3 separate regions of the Homo sapiens genome follow, and all the other regions are reported to be linked to region 1. The links are microRNA targets in miRTarBase. Many come from high-throughput screens and were not tested one by one. Region 1 holds a microRNA gene; each other region holds the end of a gene's coding sequence.
Evidence for each region. The annotated mature microRNA hsa-miR-188-3p reads CUCCCACAUGCAGGGUUUGCA and lies in region 1 at 2,399-2,419, opposite strand. An mRNA with a match to its seed (bases 2 to 7 or 8) in the 3' UTR can be bound and repressed. Matches are read on the target gene's strand: a 7mer-m8 pairs with bases 2 to 8, a 7mer-A1 pairs with bases 2 to 7 and ends in A, and an 8mer does both.

Region 1 (4,151 bases):
TATTTATCTAGAAACAAGAAAACACAAAAACAAAACATTTTTCTGTTCTGATCATTGTAGAAGCCTAAATACAATGACCAATCCAGAGGCAAATATGGTCTTTAAATATCATGTCTGATTAAAAGAAACCAGGGCTTCTTGAAGACATGGCAGATTCCAGGCCTGGGGAAGGTATCTGCGATGAGCTTTGTACATTTTTTTCATCTCTGAAAGCGGAGAAGCTATCAGATAACTACGGAGGCATGTCAAAAGGACTGAGGAACCAATTTGAAGAAGCTCCTACTGGCTAAAGATGGGGCACTGGAGCTTCACTGAAGGCAAGAACTGCAATGGATTAAAAGTCCAAATATATTTAAATCTATGAGTTTATTATAATAGTTTTTTTAAAAAATCCTCTTTAGAGTAAGCTAGTGAACCAACTCATTATTCTGAGTACTGATAAATAAAGAGAACCAAACATTTATCCTATCTTGCCTATAAAGACGGCAACACTGGGTGATCAAATAGCAGATGAAGGGAAGTTTTTCTTTATAGAAGTATTCCAGCTAATAAATCAAGAGAATAATGGGATTAGAATATCATCATTTTGCAACCCCTAATGAAATAACGGCTCTAAGAATTGAGCATCGGTGGCAACTAACATCACAGAAAGATGATCATCAGTTATTTTGTGCCTCTTAATGGAAGTAGTTCTGCTCCCCCTTCCTCAAAATTAAGCCTGAATTTGATCAGGCTTCCAGATGCAACTATCAGTTTACAGGAAATACAAACAAGGAGAAGGAACATGTAAACTACATCACAGGGATGTGATCACAAAAATCCAGACTATGCAAAACTGTATAGGATGAATGGCCCACTTTCTTCCAACAAATAAATTATAAGGAAAGAAAAAATATAGATGGAAGGGAAAGATATAATTCAAAGGGACTTAAGATACATATCAACCAAATGCAATGCATGGACCTTATCTGGATCCTAATTTATGATATTTCTGAGACAAGTGGAAATGGGAACAACAGATATGTGATGATATTAAAAAATTGTTGGCAATTTTTTTTCTTTTTGAGATGAAGCCTCGCTCTTGTCACCCAGGCTGGAGCGCAGTGGCACGATCTTGGCTCACTGCAACCTCCGCCTCCCGGGTTCAAGCGATTCTCCTGCCTCAGCCTCCCGAGTAGCTGGGATTACAGGCACCTGCCACCAGGCCTGACTAATTTTTGTATTTTTAGTAGAGACGGGGTTTCACCATGTTGGCCAGGCTGGTCTTGAATTCCTAACCTCAGGTGATCTGCCTACCTTAGCCTCCCACAAAGTGCTGAGATTACAGGCATGAGCCCCTGTGCCTGGATGGTAATTATTTTTAAGTGTGATAATGGTATGATTTTTTTTTTAAAAGCGGCCTTAGATTTTAGAGATACATAGTAATTATCAGCTTTCCCTTTTTCCATTGTAACTTACTACTTCCCAGCCCTATGCTTCTGCCACAATGGCTCTTTGTTGTTCCTAGAACACAGTAGGCCTTTCCTGACTACCCTATTTGATATCGAAACTTCTCCACCACCATCTATGCTGTAACTACCCCCACCCACTCCTTGTCCCCTTTTCCTGCCTTATTATTCTCCAGAGCACTTATCAACAATTGGCACACTATCTATTACTTACTTATTTTGTTCACTACCTGCCTCCCCTCACTAGGGCAGGGATTCTTGTCTTTTGGTCACTGGTGTATCCCTGGTGCATAGGGGAGTACCCAACACACAGTAGCTGCTCGATAAATATTTGCTGAATGAATGAGTGGCTCACCAAATGAATCGGCTGCAAATCCTGGGTCTGGGGAGATAACAGAGAAAACTCACAATCTGACTCATATCTACATGAGTGTCTAAGAAGACAGATCTTCACACACCCTCTTGAGCAAACAAGTGTGCATATGGAAAGGCATGGCACAGTGAGTGGATTCTACTTTCTGAACCCAAAATGTGTGTGCATATTACATCTTTGCATATGGTTATGATATAGACACAATTTTCCTCACAAACTGGGTTTGTGAGAATTAGCTAGAAGACTCCCTTTTCATCATGCCCCATGTACAGGAGTCCTGAGAAGGTTCTCTCTCCTCCTCTAGGTGCCGCTAAGACAGAACCAGGTCAAAAGACCCCCCTTCCTTCTCTAGGCTGTGCCTATCCCTGAGTATGAGGGGCTGCACCATGTGCAAGAGAAAGCTAAGAGAAGTCTCCCTCTCCTGCAGGATCCATGTAAGACTGAGATGGGAGAAAGGACATGGCTGAGAGTCATTCTCCTTCCCACCACATGGGTGTGTGTTTTTCTTTTGGTGAAGGAGTGCGTATGTGTATATACACATGCACAAGAGAGCAAGGAAAGCTGAGGCTCGCCATCCTGCAAACCCTGCATGTGGGAGGGGTTTTCAGAAAGCTCACCCTCCACCATGCAAGGGATGTGAGAGAGGGAGCAGGGAAGGGCTTGCTCTCTTGGCACGACATATGGGTATGCTCTAGGAGGCAAGAGGCACTGGCCTGGGGGGTGCAAGTGGGCAGCAAGATAGCCACAGGAGTGCTGATGGGTAAACTAGGAGCAGTGGCCATGGAAGCAGGACAGTCATCCAGATGGGATGGCTGCTAACAGTGTACCCCACATACAGAGCACGTAAGAGAGGGTCTACCTCCCTTTGGTGTACCTGTCCATGTGCTCATGCCTATGCACTGGAGAGGGAAGAGAAGGCTCGCTCTTCTGCAAGCCTTGGGTGTGGGAGGGTAATTAAGATGCCAACGGTCCTACACTCAAGGCATGGAGGAGAGAAAGCAAGTCGGGAGGTCTGCTCTCCTGTATACTGTGTGCATGCGTATCCCAGATGCCTTGGACTTCTATGACTGTGCCCCAGACATGCTGTAATGAGAAGGTGTGCTTGTGTACATTCACATATGTACCTTCAGAAATGTTCACTATCTACAACATATTTGTTTTCCTTCCTTCTTTCTTTTCCTTTATTTTTATTCCTAACACCAGTATAGTATTTACATTTGCAGAGCACTGTTTTAAGTGCTTTTCACACATAGCTCATTTATTCTCATAAAATATCCATGAGGTGATCATTATCCCTATTTTACAGATGAAATAACACACATACGAGAACAGATGGTAAGAAAGCTTAGAATCTGGCATGCAGGTCATTAGAAAGAGGACTCAAAAAAGGAGGCTCAAGCTCTCAGCCACCAACCACTTTGTGTCCACACACACACCACACACACACACACACACACACACACACACACACAGAGAGAGAGAGAGAGAGACAGAGACAGAGACAGAGACAGAGAGACAGACAGACAGACAGACGCAAGAGAACTTGCACTTGTCAGCCCAGGGAAAAGCTGGATTAGTGTGGAAATAATAGAGGAAGTGAGAAGTATGAGAAGTGGCTGTGTGGTCAGATTAGACATGTATTTTGAAAGTAGAGCCAACAAGATTTGACAGCAGTTTGTATTTGGAGAATGGAGGGGAAAAAGTGTCAAAGATGAATCCAAAACCTTTAGCTTATTAAAATTCTCCATATCCTTGGCATATGCAATTGGGAAATGCTGTTTGCTGAGTTGGAGAACACAGAGGGAGGAGTAGGGCTTTTTGAGAGGGGGAGGAAAACCAGGACCTCAGCTTTGGATGTGTTAAAGTTTTGAGATACTTATTAGACATTCGGGGCAGATGTCCAGTACATAGTTGGACATAGGCATCTGGAATTCAGGAGAGAAGTCCAGGCTGGAAATACAAACACAGAAATCATCCACATAAAATGGTACTTAGAGTTGCAAGACAAGATGAGAACAGCTGAGGACTAATGAGAAGTTAAAAAAAAAAAAAGAAGTCTGAAGACTAAGCCCTATATCTCTTTAATACTTAGAATTCAGGAAGAGGAGGAGAAACCATCAAGAGACTGAGAAAGAGAGGCTTGTGAGGTAAGAAGACAACCTCATGAGTGTGGAATCCTGGAAAGCAGGTAGAGTCTCAAGGCAGAGGGAGTGATCAACTGTGTGTTGATCTGTCAAGTAAGATGACAACATTGCCCAGTAAATTGGGAAATGTGAAGGACACTGGGGACCTTGACCAGGGTCATTTAAGTGCTGCAGGTTACAGTTTTA
Region 2 (4,000 bases), not on the chromosome of region 1:
AGAATACTGGAGGAACTCTAGACCTGCATTGTCCAATTGGCAGCCACTAGCCACATGTGACTATCCAAATTGAGAGGTGCTGTGAGTGTAAAAGACACAATGGATTTAGAAGACTTAGTACACAAAAGCATGTAAAACATGTCATTAATTTACATTAGTGACATGTTGAAACAATATTAGGTTAAAGTACATGATTAAAATTATCTTTACCTGTTTCTTTTTACACTTTAAAATGTGGCTAGTAGAAAATTTAAAATTATGTCTGTGACTTGCATTACGTTTCTGTTGGACAGTGCTAGTCTAGACTCTTGCTATAGAAAAATGCACATCTGCAAATACACATACAGTCTGCATTTGCTTCTAGAGGGTACACACACCCTCTGACACTCATCTGTAGACTACCAGGTCTCCAGGTCAGTCTCTTCTTTGGGGGAGGTAAAGAAGGCTATAAGGAAGGGCTGTTCCCCTTTCTTCTGAAAGAGAAACTTTCTGGTTAAGCTTTTTTTTTTTCTTTTTTTTTTTTTTTTTAAACTATCAAAGCTACAGGAAAATCCTCCAGAAACAAACTTTGGTAAGTAGTGAATGGCAAAGGCTCAGGGGGTTTGCAGCAGGACCTCCTTGGGGTCAGATCTGCCAGCCTCGGGTTGGCCTTTCAGACCCCTCATCGTCTATGAGGCATCCTGTAAGTGCAGCTGTGGCCAGGGCTTGCATATGCAATCAATTCCTGATTCACCTAGTTCTTGGCAGGAAGAGAAAATACTCGTTAATCAGAGGACTAAACAATCCAAAGCGCATTCTCTCTCTGGGAATGGAATATAATTTATATTTCTGTTGCTATTGAATTATCCTTCTAATTCCACTGGACTAAACTTAATACCAGTAATACTAAAATTTGTTTTGGGCAAAGCCGACTGAAGGAGGAGTCAGTGGCGCAAGCCTATGCTGACTGTGAAAAATAAACACCTCTGAGATCAAGAATCCCACAGTGAGAGCTAGGATTTGAAGGTATCCAGAGATTGCAAACTCTGTGACTAACAGCAATTTTTAAACAAGGCAAAACAAACCAACTCCTACTTGGACTTAAAACTTCAATCATTTAGATTTTCATTCTCAGCACCATAGTTGTGCCAAGTCTCAAAGGCTGTTATTACATGATACATGTCAAGTAACTCTACCTCCCCAAGCTACGAAGCCTGATTGCCACAAGTCATAGCTATCTGCAAAAATGGATCCTGCCTCTGAAAGACTCATCTGTGGTCCCACAGCCAGAGGAGCTTGGGGACTCATGTTATTAAACCCTTCACATTATAGATGAAGAAGCCGAGGCTTAGTAAAGCGTGTGGTTCATCTAGGATTCTCGATTCAGAGCTCTCTTCATTCCTCCCTGCCTCTTTTCCCACACATAGAGAGTGGATTTCATTACAGGAAGCATTGGACTCCTAGGGAGATGCAACCTTTCTGAGGGTAATAATCATCTGCCTTGCCTTACTGTCTACTTACAAACCATCAAATAGGAAATTGGTAAAGGTGGTGAAAAAGGAGCAGCTAGTATTCTCCGTTGACCTGCACACCATGTTTCAGCAGGCGGCAAGGATTTACAGCAGAACCAAACTCTTTTTGAATGAGTATTAGTCTAATGAGGTGGAAAAGTCCCCATCAATACATAAAAACAACTCAGTGAGAAAAGCTTTCTTTCCTGGTTAATCCAAGCCGCAGCCTGGTGTTTGCCAGCTGTGTAGAGATAAGGTGATCCGTCTGATTGTTCAGAGACGCTATCAATGACCTTAGTCATCTCTGTATCTGGATAGTCTGAATATATTACAAAATTGCCCACTGAAAAAATAGCACATTTCTGTCATAGTTACAAAAGATGAATAAAAACAGAAACAGTTTAAAAACACCATTGGGTTTCAGTATTTACTTGATACCTCTTTTCCTTTCCCTCTTACTTTGTCTATTTCAGTCAGGATAAACGATCTAGCAAATTCTCATGCTGCATACTTTTTGGTTCAAATGATACAGCAAATCACACCTCATTCCTCACTTGGTATCTGGACACACTCAGGGAGCCCTGGGAAGCAATCTGCTAGGGATTCACCTAAATCCTCCCACATGGTCTGGTGAGATTCAACAGAAGTGTGTCGAAATTAAGGTAAAAGCTAGGTGCTACTGCAGCCCCCACTATGTTTGCCATTGGACTTAAAAATGATTGGCTTTTCTCTAAAGCCTCCATTTTTTACAGAACCCACTTACAGAGGTAAGAAAAAAACTGTTCTAGCCCAGGGGAAACCAATGCAACTGGCATTTTGTTTTCAATAGGAAGAAAATGTGGTATCTGGTTTTAAAACCAGCCCTACAACCACCAAAGACTGGATGCCTTGGAGGGGACTTCTGAGTTCAGAATTTCAGCCAAAGACTGTAAGACCCAGAAGAATGAAACGGCTTCCCTAGAGCTCCCTTCTCATGTCACGTGGGCCCTTAATCAAGCCCGGCAAGTGGAAGCAAGTGTGATGTGGCTTAAAATAACCAGCAGTGGCCTCAGCAGATTTAGGGCTTAGTGTTGGGGTCTCTGGCAGCTGGGGTTTTTAAAGGCCCACTTAGAAGAACTTAGATTCTTAATGAAAGCTGGCCTTAGTCCATTTCAGGGTGCTGAGGCACTTCTCAAAGCCATGCACACTTCATGCTGGGAGGTCAAGACCACATATCTCAGAGATGGAATACAAACTGATCATAGCAGGAACTGGTGCTTCTAAACAGAAACCTATACAAAAGCTGGAGTGCATCAAAGGAAAAACAAAGGAATAGATGGAAAGTAAACTACAAATAATCTTTAAAAAAATTGCCAAAGAAATCAAACAACATGCCAAAAACAAGAATGATGAGACATGGAAAGAATTGAAATGAAACTAAGAAATCCTAAAGGTGGCCTTTCAGTCTCTGTTTTAGGAGCTTCTGAAGTGTATGTCTACATGGACATAGGAGTGGAAATCAGCTTTCAACTTCCCAGCTGCCAAGGCCACAGACTGCCATACCGATGGAGAAACTGCATCCTGATTGACAAGACTTTGGATATTGCTTTTCGTCAGCATTCTTGAACGGAGCGCCCTGGAGTTGCCAAGGTGATCTGGAGGTGTGTGTGTGCCTGGTCCAAGTCTTGGAGCACTCTTCCCTTCCTTTCCCTTGGGTCCTACTATCTCTTTGCTTCTGGATTTGTCGTTTCAAGATTTCACTTCTTCACAGTCCTGGTCAGTGGAAAGTTCTACATCAGACAGTCCAACCTCCATTGCCATGATCAAGGAAATGTCAGAATCACTGCTTACAGCTGGCTCCTGCTCACCTGGGAGGAGAAAGCAAAGTTCACAGTGAACACCGAGCTATGTCTTTGCATGCTGCTTATTTCAGTACAATTGCTTGTAATAACATTTCTTTAAAGGCCAAGAGAAGGTATTAGAAAAATTGGGTATTCTGTAAAAACTCTAGTTAAAGCCTCATCTCACATGGGCCAAAAAGTTAAATGCAAACAAAAGAAACTAGAATAATAAAATATATCATCTAAGGATATGTCTTAGTAGGAAAATATATATCTACCGTAAGTTGGGCAAGAAATTCTATTTAGAAAAGTAATTGGGTAATTTACAGAAGAAAAGATTGTTACATATGCGTAACATTTAAAATGTTACACACATGTAAAATAAAATCAAAAGGCATATCAAACTCAGGAATTTGCAAAAAATTTCACAAAGGTTTCTATTCTTAACATATAGAAAGCTTTTAAATCAATAAGAAAAACAGTTCAATAGAAAAATGGACAAAGGTTACCATTACACAATTCACGGAAGAGTGTAATATAAATGACCAATAAATATAAGGTAAAAATAAGATATCCTTTTTTGTCTATGTAATCTTCACTCTTTAAAAAAGACAAGATAATATTACAGTTAAGGGTACACTGAGGTAGGTAGGTACATGATACATTGCATATAGAACTGTAAAATTTTCA
Region 3 (4,000 bases), not on the chromosome of region 1:
CAACCATGGCTACCGCGTGCAGGTGGAGAACCCGGAACGCTTCTCCTCGGCGCCCTGCCTGCTGGGCTCCCGTGTCTTCTCACAGGGCTCGCACGCCTGGGAGGTGGCCCTTGGGGGGCTGCAGAGCTGGAGGGTGGGCGTGGTACGTGTGCGCCAGGACTCGGGCGCTGAGGGCCACTCACACAGCTGCTACCACGACACACGCTCGGGCTTCTGGTATGTCTGCCGCACGCAGGGCGTGGAGGGGGACCACTGCGTGACCTCGGACCCAGCCACGTCGCCCCTGGTCCTGGCCATCCCACGCCGCCTGCGTGTGGAGCTGGAGTGTGAGGAGGGCGAGCTGTCTTTCTATGACGCGGAGCGCCACTGCCACCTGTACACCTTCCACGCCCGCTTTGGGGAGGTTCGCCCCTACTTCTACCTGGGGGGTGCACGGGGCGCCGGGCCTCCAGAGCCTTTGCGCATCTGCCCCTTGCACATCAGTGTCAAGGAAGAACTGGATGGCTGAGCTGGCCCGGGGCTGCCCCGGTCTTGTGCCACAGCACTGTTTTCTTTCTGCCCTCTTCCTAATGCCCACACTGCTTGGGCACTATTGCGCCCCTGCCTCCTTGCCAGGCTCTTCCTCCTGTCCTGCCTGGTCCTTTTCCATGACTCCAGGCTGTGCCTCTCTCCATGTTTGGTCCCTTCTGTGCCCATGGTCAGGAGCTATTCGGGTGGCACCTCGCTGGCCAGGCTCTCCCGAGTCGTGGCACCTCCACAATGTGAATTTTCTGAATCCCTATTCCAGGATTTCTGGGAATAATGTTTACTTCTAGAATGGGCCTGTTGTAAACCATCTCATCGAGGTGTGGTAAAGCCATTGGATGAGGAGGGGACTGCCATGGAAAGGAGAGTTTGTTACTTACGGTTCTGAGAGGAGGGGCCACATAGGAAAGCCCCACGGTGGGTCAGAAGGCGGAAGGAGGGAGGGGAACGTGTGGGCAAGAGACTTCCTCTGGTTTCCTCAGGAGGAAATGGGCAAGGCAGAGTAAGCAGGGGAGACAGGTTTAAGGGTAGCTGGCTTGAGTAATTTCAGTGGCTCTCAGGATAGGGGCTGCCCTTTTTGTCTGATACCTGGCCCCGGGATAGTCAGGACAGGTGAATGTTGGCCTGGGGTGTGACAGCCCTGGGAGAGCCATGTGAAGGAGGCAGCTGGCGCCATCGCTCCGGATTAGTTGGTTTCCATAGGAAAGGCATGCTTTCAGCCAGATGCTTGCCATCTCTAGGGATTGGGGGATTGGCTAGCCTGGGAGGATCAGTCTGTCCAGGTCAGCGAGGCCCCAGATACCAGAGCATCAAGAGTACAGGAAATACAGTTAATGCAGGGCCTCTGTGTGGCTGGATCCTCCGTCTCCATCAGATCAGCTCTGATTGATCTATTCTTGCACGATTTCCTCTGAACACAGGGTTCCAGAGTACTTAAACACAACATTTTTTAAATCGTGATTTCGGCCTATTTCCTTGCCAGGCCTGTTTCCCCACCAGGAAATGAGATAGGAGGACTGGATGAGGATGTCCTGTTATAGTTGCTGTGGAGGAAGTTCCTCTGGTTAATTCTCATCAGCGTCTGCAGAAAAGAAGGAAAGAGGGCACCCTTTTCAGTTGGGAAGAAAGGAGAGGGGTGGCGCCATGGACGTGGCCCTAAACGCTGTGGGAGAGGGAAGAGGAGGCTGGGCCTCGCTGCCCTCTTGTCTCTGCTGACTTCAGCCTGGTCATGCTTGCTCTGCCACTTGCGATTTCATCCCTAATTTCTTCCTCCACCATGCCTGCAGACTTTTCCCTGGGCTTGTTTTTTCTCGCACATCTCTGAAGAGTTTTTAATCTTCAGCTCATCATGTCCCAGGAAGTGGCATCATAAAAGGAAATATTTTTTTTTCCTAGGAGCAGTGTTAAAATCTGGGTCACATTCCTGACCAAGGACAGCATCCTGCCTTCTGCCCATCCCCTTCAGTTCACAAAAGCTGACATTTTAAACAAATCATGACTCACACGTATTAATTGGTTATAAATATGTTGTGTACACTGGTTAGATAAAACTTAAGGCCACAAGGAGGGCCCAGGTAGGCGATGTCAGTGTGTGAAGGGGCTGGATTGGGCGTGGTGAGGATGTTGGCAAACCAGTGCATGCACCTGGTTGGAAGATGCTCAGCCTCACAAAAGCTCCAAGCCCTTTGGGAGCCAAAGTGTCTGAGAGTGTGACCCTCTCCTGTAAAGTATTTATCCCACCCATTAATATAATTTCTGTATAATAAACTTGACCTGAAATTATTTCATTCTTTATATTAAACTTTTAAAAATGTTTTTTATTTTCACCTTAGATATGGGAAGAGTTTTTTTTTTTTTTTTTTTTTTAACAGGATAACTTGAGCAGGCTAGGCCTCTTAAAAAAAAATTTGAGCTAAAACTCATTTTTCTTTTGGCATTTTCTTTTCAATGTTCTTATAAGCAAAGTTCATCCATGTTGTAGCATGTGTTCAACTTTATTTTTTCATCGGGTAATATTCCATTGTATGGAATGGTAGTACTACATTTTATTTATCATGCATCGATTGGTGGACATTTGGATCGTTTCTACTTCTTGACTATTATACATAATGCTGCTAGGAACTTTTGTGTATGAGTTTTTGTGTGGACATATGTTTTCATTTCTCTTTGGTATATGCCTGGGAGCAGATTTGCTGGATCATATGAAACTCTATTTAACCCTTGAGGGACTCCCAAACTGTTTTCCAATGTGGTGACACAATTTTATATCCCATCAACAGGGCATGAGGGTTCTGATGACTCCACATCCCTCAGTGCTTTTTATTATCTATCTTTTAACTTAGCCATCCTAGTAGGGGTAATGTGGCATCTCATTGTGATTTTGGTTTGCATTTCCCTGATGGCGAATGATATTGAGCATCTTTTCATGAGCTTATTGGCCATTTGCATATCTTCTTAGGACAGCTATCTTTAGATCACTTGCTCATTTTTTAATTGGGTTATTTGTCTTTTTATTATTGAGTTGTAAGAGTCCTTTTATAGCCTGGCACAAGTCCCTTTAACTGGTATATGATTATAAAATTTTTCTCCGTGAGCTGTTTCATTTCCTTGATGATGTCCTTTGAAATACTAAAGCTTTTAATTTTGATGATGTCCAATTTTTATTTATTTTTTCTTTTGTTGTACATGTATCCTAGAAATCTCACTTTTGATACTGCCCTTAGGTCCATGTAAGTTCGGGGTTTTGGCTCAGGGATGGGGCAGTTATTCTGTTGGCAGGAAGCGCTAGTCCACGAGTTCATTAATTCTTCCCTGAAGCCCCTCTCCTGCCCTTGCCTTCCACTCACCCCGTCACTCTCCTTCTCATTACTGTGTCCAGGCTCAAAGCAGCAGCTCTCTGGGAAGGCCCCCGTTCTCCAGTTTCTCCCACTTTTGCATCCATTCCACATGCACCATCGTTCATGTTCCCATCACCTGGAGAGACCCCATTTCCAACCCGCTGCAGTGCATTTCTCCAGGGCAGCTCTCAGGGCACATTGTCACTGCACTCTGCCTTTATACCCGGAGTCTTCTCAGTCCCGTCACACATGGCTCCAGCCGGACCAGGCTCCTGTTTACCCTTGAAATAGGCCACCTGCCCTCACCAGGGGCCCGTTGTCACTGGAATGTCCTGACCTTGGTTGCTCTGGCTCTCCTGATCATATTGGCTCTGCCGCTTACGTGATATCTCCTGGGGCACACACTGCCTGCCTGATCTTATTTTCTCATCTGTAGAAGTGGGGCCCCTCCCCACCTCCTGAATGTCTGAGCAGTGTGAGCACCTCAGAAACTGGAGTCTCAGAGCACACGAGAGCCTCAGTAACCTCCAGGCTCCCAGTCATGTCCACGTCAGCCACCAGGTATCAGTTGGTCAGAATTAGGTGCACAGGGGCCATTTCCTTTTTTGCTTCCTCTTGCTTGTGGGGGATGAAATTTC

Region 2: miRTarBase lists RNF150 as a target of hsa-miR-188-3p. Seed matches in the 3' UTR shown: 7mer-m8 at 2,107-2,113, 8mer at 1,394-1,401, 7mer-m8 at 1,258-1,264 and 7mer-m8 at 979-985.
Region 3: the mRNA of TRIM35 is a reported target of hsa-miR-188-3p. Seed matches in the 3' UTR shown: 7mer-m8 at 1,689-1,695.

The regions. Positions count from the first base shown.
Region 1 is chrX:50,001,824-50,005,974 of GRCh38, reverse strand. It overlaps MIR188 (microRNA 188), which reads right to left and starts at 2,472; the gene lies at 2,387-2,472. All of the region lies in intron 3 of CLCN5 (chloride voltage-gated channel 5), which reads right to left. It overlaps MIR532 (microRNA 532), which reads right to left and starts at 2,827; the gene lies at 2,737-2,827.
Region 2 is chr4:140,865,043-140,869,042 of GRCh38, forward strand. It overlaps RNF150 (ring finger protein 150), which reads right to left. Exons shown (of 7, transcript NM_020724.2): 7 at 1-3,337. The coding sequence ends at 3,219. Among named protein-coding and RNA genes, the nearest start is that of TBC1D9, 110 kb to the left of the region's middle.
Region 3 is chr8:27,284,058-27,288,057 of GRCh38, reverse strand. TRIM35 (tripartite motif containing 35) reads left to right here. Exons shown (of 6, transcript NM_171982.5): 6 at 1-3,172. The coding sequence ends at 508. Among named protein-coding and RNA genes, the nearest start is that of TRIM35, 25 kb to the left of the region's middle.